Linked DNA regions of Homo sapiens. The protein of the gene in region 1 interacts with the protein of each later gene in a biochemical or structural test. Each region holds a gene or a part of one and is shown on either strand. Other genes may lie near its edges. The genes, in order: CD151 and ITGA3.

Region 1 (4,521 bases):
CAGAAAGAGAAAGTCAGCCTGCTACGGCAACTGGAGCTGCTCAGGTACGGTCAGGCTCAGGCCCGAGAGGGAATGGGCTCAGCGGAGCTTGGGGGCTCCCAGCTCCCCAACATTCTTGGCTGCCGCTCTACTCCATTGGAAGTCCTTCCTTATGCCTGCCTTTCACCCCTCACGCTGCAGCCTCAGCCAGACACCTCTCTTCGCTCTGAGGGGAGTCGGAGCTCACCTCCCCCCACCTTGAGCTCCCTCAGACCCTCTCAGTGTCGGACTCCTCCTTCCCTAGGGAGCTGAATACACGGCTGCGGGATGACAGGGACGCCTGCGAGGCCAGGCGGGCGGGCAGCAGCTGCAGGAAGGCTCTGACAACAGCCCGCCTGCCTGGGCCCACCTGCTGCTGCTGCTGTTGCTGGGCTCGGCCCCCCAGACGCGGCTCTGGCCACCTTCCCAGTGCCCGGTGACCAGCCCCGAGTGACTCACGGACCATGAGCTAGAAGCTGCCCTTGCAGGAGGCTTGTCATGGGTCGGGGGTGCCCACTCAGGATGCAGGCTCTCCCCAGTGGGCCCCAGGCTCGCCTGACTGAAGACATGAAGGACCTAGCCTAGGAGTGGTCAGGGTCCCGGGAGTGGCCAGGGTCCCGTGTGTGCCCTCTGCCAGTCTTCGCTCTGTCCCCGTTCAATCAACCCCATCTCAGTTCAGCAGAAAACCCCCTCGTCAAATAAAACCCACTGACTGCACTGCGTCCTCCTGGGCCTTCCGTGTGTCTGGGAGCCACAGCCTGTGTGTGCCACATGGATGAGGTGGGCACCTGTGCACGCGTGCTGTGTGGGTGAATACAGGGAGCGCGGGCCTGTGGCGATGGGGCTGAGGTCCTGCGTGTCCTCTTGTGTCCCTGGTCATGCCCCAAACTCACACTACCCATCAAGGCTGGAGCCCCTCGGGGCCCTCGCCAGTGTGTGGATCAGGGCTCCCCACTGTCTCGCCAGGGAGGCCGGGCAGGTTCCCGGCCTCAGTCGGCCACCCCCTCCCATGCTGGTCCTCCCCTGTGGCTGTGATGAATGAGCTTGGTGGGTGGGCAGCCCCCTCCTTCCTCACTCCCACTCTTGGCGTCTTGGTGCAGCCCTAGGCCGGCCCTGCCCTTCGTCCCTCACCTCCTCGCACCGCTCCCAGTGGTCCCTTCCAGTCTGGAGGGCATGGGCCCCCCAGGACCCCATGGGTATGTCTCGCTGGGACCCCAGGCCTGCCCGGGTCTCCAGGCTGTCCACACTGCACGTACAGTAGCCCTTCTCCCGCATTTGCCCACAGCGCTAGGCCCTCCCACGCCCCAGGCCGGCATCGGTTCTGCCGACCCCTGCAGCCTCTGGGCGGTTCCTGGGTGAGGAGAAAGAGATGGGGGTTGGGCATGGAGGAGGGCCGGGTCGCCACAGCCCAGGGCCTCTGGCTAGGCTGGTCGCCGTCTTACCTCCGGGCCCGCCTCCCGCCCAGCTCCTCCGTCCTTGGACGGGATGGGCCCTTGCTGGGCTATTGGCGCCCCCAGGGCTGCAGCTCGCCCGGCCTCCGCAGTGCCAGGTCGACCCCCAGCGCCTACACCCACGCGGGTTCAGACCTGCCGAGCGCCCGCCGCCGCGGGAGGGGCTTGAGGCCGGGGCGGGGCCGGGGCGGGGCGGGGCGGGGCGTCCCCCTCGTAGGCTCCGGGCCGCGCATTCTCAGCGCTGGGAGCCGCCGCCCCCGCAGCTGCTGCCGCCGCCGCCAGGGCCCGGACTCGGACGCGTGGTAGGTGAGTGCGCGGCCACGACAGCTCGGCCGAGCGGGGCGAGCGGGGCGAGGGGGGCGAGGGGCGCGAGGGGGGCGAGGGGCGCGAGGGGGCCGAAGGCCCTGCGCGCCCCAGCCCCGGAGGCCCAGCCGCAGGCGCCGGGAGGTTCCGGGAGGCCGCACCCACCGCCTGGCCCAGCTCCCTCGCCTGCCCCAGCTCCCTCGCCTGCCCTTCCGCGGGAGGCGGACTCCGGGCGGGTTGGGGAGGCGCAGCGGGAAGGAGAGGCGCCTCCCGGGCCCTTGGACCGGCCTGACGGCCCCCTTCAGCCCAGGGGTCCCGGGACGCGCAGCCTGGACACCCTGCTCATTGTCCCTGGACACGGCAGTCTTCCCTCCGCCCGCAGCAGCCCCCGCCCGCGTGCAAGTGGGCGCGCCATTGGCCGCGCCGGGCGGGGTCGGCGGCGGCGGTGACCTCATTGCAGTGCCCCGGGGACGCTTGGCAGGCGCGGAGTCCCAGGTCCCCCTGACTGGGGCTCCCCCTGATAGGGCGCGGGCCGCCCAGGGGCCTGGTGCAGGTCCCGGGGACTTGGGGAGGAACAGACAACTATTTCTGGAAGGCCCTTTCCCAGGGGGTCCAGAGGGACCAGGCATTCCTGGGAAGAGGGGCCACTCCTCAGCGGGTCGCCTGTGTCCTCGCGGTGGAGGACGCATCTGTGCCCAGAACCAACTTCTCCAGAAAGCCTGGGACCTTACAGCCAGGCCAGGGGCAGGTCCTTGAGGGGCTCACACATCCCCCCATCGGTGGCAGACGCACACCCCGCCCCCCGGTGGCAGACACATCCCCCCGCTGGTGGCAGGGTCTGCCTGTGCCACCCTTCCTGCGTGTATTTAGGCCCTGGCTCCTTCATGGAGGGTGAATATCCCCTCTCAGCTCAGTGGTAAGGTCTGTCCCCCTCCAGCTCCATTCCATGATGCCTCTTTCCCAGGCTGTAGCTGCCGCTGTTTGTGGGGGAAGGGCCAGTGATGGGTCTGGAGCGAAGGCCAAGAGTGGGGCACCTGGGGGAAGGTATGAGGTCCCTCCCAGGATCAGACTGTCCCGAAATGTCGTCTGCCTTGGGAGGCCAAGGCGGGTGGAACATCTAAGGTCAGGAGTTCGAGACCAGCCTGGTCCACATGGTGAAACTCTGTCTGTACTAAAAATACAAACATTAGCTGGGCGTGGTGGTGGGTGCCTGTAATCCCAGTGACTCAGGAGGCTGAGGCAGGAGAATTGCTTGAACTCAGGAGGCGGAGGTTGCAGTGAGCTGAGATCGTGCCATTGCACTCCAGCCTGGGTGACAGAGCGAAACTCCATCTCAAAAAAAGAAAAAAAGAAAAAAACAAAATGTCTTGTGCCTTGCCCCACCCTAGCCCAGACTAAAATACCGGGCTTGGCCACTCCTCTCTCTGCCTCCAGAATGAACCCGGCCCACTCTGGCCCTTGGGCCAGACCTGTAACCTGTGACCTGACATGTCCTTGCCCCTCTAGCCTAGAGTCCTGGGGAGCTTCTGTCCACCTGTCCTGCAGAGGAGTCGTTTCCAGCCCGGCTGGTGAGTGCTGGCCAGGGTGGGGCAGAGCAGGCGGGGCGGCGAAAGTCCAGACCTGGCTGTGCTGTCTGGAAACGTGGCCCAGGGCGCTCAGCTGCTGTCTGCACCCCACGCCCTCCCTGGCTTCCCCATGCTCACAGCTTGCCCACTGCTGCAGGTCGGGCGGGCACGGGGCATCTGGGGAGGGGCATAGCCTGTCTGTGCTGCCCCCTCAGGTTGGTGTGGGTCGCCTGTCCAGGAAAAACCCTCCCAGTCTGCCAGGCTCCACCTGCCTCCACGCTCCATTCTCCCCACCCCGGCCAGGATGAAGGAAGGGCTGCCCTTTAACAGACCGTAAACAGGCCTGGAGAGCTTAGGAAGGGGCTGAGCTGGGGCCTGTCTGAGCCCCTACCCCTCTGCTGTCTGAGTGGCCTCCTCCGCCCTTACTGCAGGCCCATAGGCTCCTGCCAGCCTGTGACGTGCGGCCCCGGGAATGCCGTGGGGAGCGGGCAGGCTGGCATGAGCTCACCGGAGGTACCCGCTAGGGCTTCCTCCCCCGGCCGCTAGCAGGGGTGAGTCAGCAGTGATGGCGGGAGGTCCTCCATGACCCCTGTCCTGTCTGTGGGCACCAGGGGTCTGTCCTGGCTGTCAGGGCTCCTGAGTCGCTAGGAAGTGACACGTCCTGTTCCCACAGGGGCTCATTCACAGGCCTCCCAGGACAGTGGCTGGCTCTGCCCCGACTTCTGGGCTGGCTTGGGTATCTGTGTCCCCTCTTTTTTTTCTTTTTTATTGAGATGGAGTCTCACTGTCGCCCAGCCTGGAGTGCAGTGGCACCATCTCGGCTCACTGCAAGCTCCGCCTCCCGGGTTCATGCCATTCTCCTGCCTCAGCCTCCCAAGTAGCTGGGACCACAGGCGCCCACCATCACGCCCAGTTAATTTTTGTATATTTTTGATGGAGATGGGGTTTCACCACAATGGCCAGGCTGGTTGTGAACTCCCGACCTCAAGTGATTGCACCTGCCTTGGCCTCCCAAAGTGCTGGCATTATAGGCATGAGACACCGCACCTGGACTCCTTTCCTCTACTTTCTTTGGGTTAATTTGCTAGTCTCTTTTTATTATTTATTTATTTATTTTGAGATGGAGTCTCACTCTGTCGCCCAGGCTGGAGTGCAGTGGCACCATCTCGGCTCACTGCAAGCTT
Region 2 (3,500 bases), on another chromosome or scaffold:
GCTGGGAAGGGGGTGGGACCTTGCCTATACTTCAAGACAACAGCTCAGACCTCACCCTGGGGAAGTGTTCCTGGGAGAAGGGGTGAAGCTTCCTGGCCAGGGAGGCTGGCAGGGGGCCAGGGTGGCAGCCAGGCCTGGAGAGTCACTTCTCTCTGGGCTGGGAAGGCCTCGATGAGTCCACTGCCTGACCACCCATGGACATCCGCTCTCTGGCGTGCCTGACAGATGAGAGAAGGGACCCACAGCCTGCGGGAAAGGAGCATCTCAGCCTGAGAACCCACGGACCTGGGTCTAGGGTTTGTTCTGCCTGAAGGGGCAATTTCCTTTCCTTCTCTGAGCCCTGAGTGCCCCATCTGTAAAATGGGGGCAGCCCCTCTCCTGCTGACCTCCAGGGTTGCTAGAGGAACAAATAGGTCTATTCTACAAAAAGGTGTTCTGATATGAAGCCATAGCTAATGTGAGCATTGTTGTTCCGATTTGTTGTGGCATCAGGACTGGTCTAGCATGCCTCCAGCCCTCCCTCCAGGGACCCAGGAATTTCTTTTTTTCTTTCTTTTTTTTTTTTTTTTTGAGACAGGGTCTTGCTCTGTCACCCAGGCTGGAGTGCAGTGGCACAACCTCGGCTCACTGCCACCTCCGCCTCCCGGGTGCAAGTGATTCTCCTGACTCAGCCTCCCAAGTAGCTGGGATTACAGGCATGCACCACCACGCCCAGCTAATTTTTGTATTTGTACTAGAGATGGGGTTTCGCCATATTGGCCAGGCTGATGTCGAACTCCTGACCTCAGGTGATCCACCCGCCTCGGCCTCCCAAGTTACTGGGATTACAAGCGTGAGCCACCGTGCCTGGCTGGACCCAGGAATTTCTGCCCTGGCATGTTAGGGAACCTGGAGCAGAGGGAAAAGAAGAGACTCCTTTGGTGGTTTAGAGAGATCAGCAGGGAGACATAGGAAGACTTCCATGGCTTGAGGATACCAGGTGATCACTGGGGTCAGGGTGGGAGCGCTGGCAGCTAGAGTCACTCTACAGCGGGGGCTCAGATCTGGCTGGAGGTGGAGGTTGGGAATTTTCTACAGTGACACTAAGGGGTCCGGGCCTCAGTGGGAGGCCGGGCCTTGGGCACGCCTGTAATGGAAGTGTTGCCCCCTTGTTGCTGCTGCTGCCCTGCCCATGTTGTCATACAGGAGGCAGCTGAGCAAAAGGGTCTCCATGCCCTCCCAGCCCCCTCAACTCAGCCAGGAAGGGGCTAAGGGACTCCCTCCTCTGAACTTCCCAAGGTACTGAGCAGGCAGAGCTGGGCACGCATGTCAATCAGATTGAAATACTTCCCCTTACCACCAATACCCTCCTGCCTGTTGCCTGGAACCAGCCTTATGCCTACTGATAGAGGGCAGGGCAGGGCCAGTGCCCTAATCCCAGCCCTACATCCCAGGCCCCTCCCTCCTCAGAGATTCCAGAGTGAGCCCCCGCTTCACCCCCCCAGAGTATTTTTAGCTTCCACTTGGCCCACTCAGAGGCCCTTTAAGGCCCTCTGGCTCCCAGCCCAGGATCCAATGGGTCTACAGCCAGAGGCCTGCACATGGATGGGGGAAGGCGGGTGTGCAGAGGGTGGTTCCAGCTTCCTCCAGCCACACACACCCAGGTGTGTGCGGAGGGGGTTGGAGAATCCTGAAGGTGAGAGGGACCTTACTGTATGCAAATGAAATGCAAATTAGTACACAAATGAGCAATTCTGCCAGCCACCTGCTTTTAGGTCTGGTCCAGATCACAAAATCCAAAAGCTGACCCCTTCCAGAGCAGTACTGAACCCATCCCCTCAGCTGCAGCCAGAAGGAGGGAGAGTAGGTGGAGGGATGCCTAGATGGAGCTCTTAGAGCAAGGAAGATAGGAGATGGGACTGCCCCTCTCCTGGAGTCAGGCTGGACTGGGGGGAGCAGAGACCCCCAGCCCCCCAGATGGAGTGGGATGGGTGAAGTGACTACTCAAGGGCTTTCCAACAGCTGCCTCCTCACCCTCCCATTGGCTCCAGCCAAACAGCCCCTCTTGGCCTCTGCGGAGCCCCTTGAGCTCCAAGTTCCGAAAAAGCCCTTCCTTACCCCTGCCCTATCACTCCCCTTGGGGCAGTTCAGAGCTAATGGAACAGCCAAGGAGAAAGCAGAAGAATCAAAGAAGGGCGCGGCACAGTACCCAGGAGAATTCAGGGTACCAGGTTGGCTCACCTCAAAGAGGAGAAGGCCCCTGGGGGCACTGGGGTGGGGTAATGCTCAGAGAAGCAGCCTGTAAGATTCACCTTCCCAGATTCTGTCACCTCAGGGAGGCACTTGGTGGCTCCATGGGAGGATTCCAGAGGGGGCCAAAGGATCTAGCACTCAGGCCAACATGGCAGGGCCTCACTCCTTGGGTACCTAGCCTCCTGTGTTCCCCTCCTATCCCCGGCCGGGAGGCAGGTGGGGAGGGTGCCTGCTCCACCTCTGAGCCCCAGAGAAGGGGTGGGGGCAGCTCTGGGATGCCTGGATCCCAGCTCTATGCCAGCCTTGCTGCCCGAATTAGCCATCTCCCCAGAGGCCGGCCCTGTGGCAGCTGAAACTGCAGCCCTCCCCATCCTTCCTGACCCTTCCCTTGCTGCCCACCCAGCCCCCTCTCCCCACTGGTGACTCAGCCCTAGAACCAGAGCAACAAGCTGGAGGGAGAGAGAGAATGAGAAAGGACAGGAAAAAGAGCCCTGGCTAAGCCTCAGATAAAAAAAGAACAAGGCCATTTTTCTCAGTTCTGCTCCCTTTCCTTGGCTCTTCAGTATTTTTCCTGTATTTGACCCCCGAGGGCATTCTAAGTGTCATCTAACCTCAATTCCTCTTACTGCAAAGGGGATCTTCTTCCTTCTTTGTTTACTTCTGACCAAGCCCCCTTCGCTGCTGCTTTTTCTACAAGATCAGGCTTCCCCTACTCCTGCCCAGTTGAAAGCCTCTTGGCCTAGACTGGTCACTGGGTAGAGCCAGAGGAAAAAGATACTACACGAGCAGGCCTTCTGCCTCCAGCCACAGCTGCTGTGCCCATTTCTGCTGGCACGAACCTTGAAGGCTGCCAGGCACCTGCTTTGCCCAGGGAAACATGATGTTAGGAGAGCATGGCAGGTGAGCCTGGCTCCTGCGTACCTCAGGCATGACCTCATTTCTAGGAGCCACCCTGCCCTGGGCTTCCCAGATACCCTCATTTCCAAGCAAAAGTGAAAGAGAGAGAAGGACCGGCAGTATCCCCATAGGCCCACAGGGTCAGGCCAGACCAGAATGCCTGGATTCCCAGGAGGGAATGTCAGTGCAGGTGCTGGAGCAGAGAGGGTGTCAGTAACCACCTCCCAGAGAACAGTCCCTGTCCCTCCAAGGAACCCCTCATGCATCTTGCCAAGAAGCCCAGAGCACTTTGGTCCTCTGCCTGCTCCTTACCCCTCATTTCCACAGACTAGGAGACTGGGCCCTGGGTTGGGGCTAGCCCCCTATGTTGT

The links.
Region 2: the proteins of CD151 (region 1) and ITGA3 form a complex in vitro, tested with the Homo sapiens proteins (one study listed by BioGRID).

What each region holds. Positions count from the first base shown.
Region 1 is NC_000011.10:831,252-835,772, forward strand, and holds the start of CD151 (CD151 antigen), read left to right. Parts: upstream 1-1,700; 5' UTR 1,701-1,775; intron 1,776-2,741; exon of another isoform or gene 2,742-2,816; intron 2,817-3,278; 5' UTR 3,279-3,340; intron 3,341-4,521. Other genes in the region: CRACR2B (EF-hand calcium-binding domain-containing protein 4A), read left to right, coding at 1-44, 284-458. UniProt on the Homo sapiens protein: Structural component of specialized membrane microdomains known as tetraspanin-enriched microdomains (TERMs), which act as platforms for receptor clustering and signaling.
Region 2 is NC_000017.11:50,059,110-50,062,609, reverse strand, and holds part of ITGA3 (integrin alpha-3 preproprotein), read right to left. Parts: intron 1-3,500.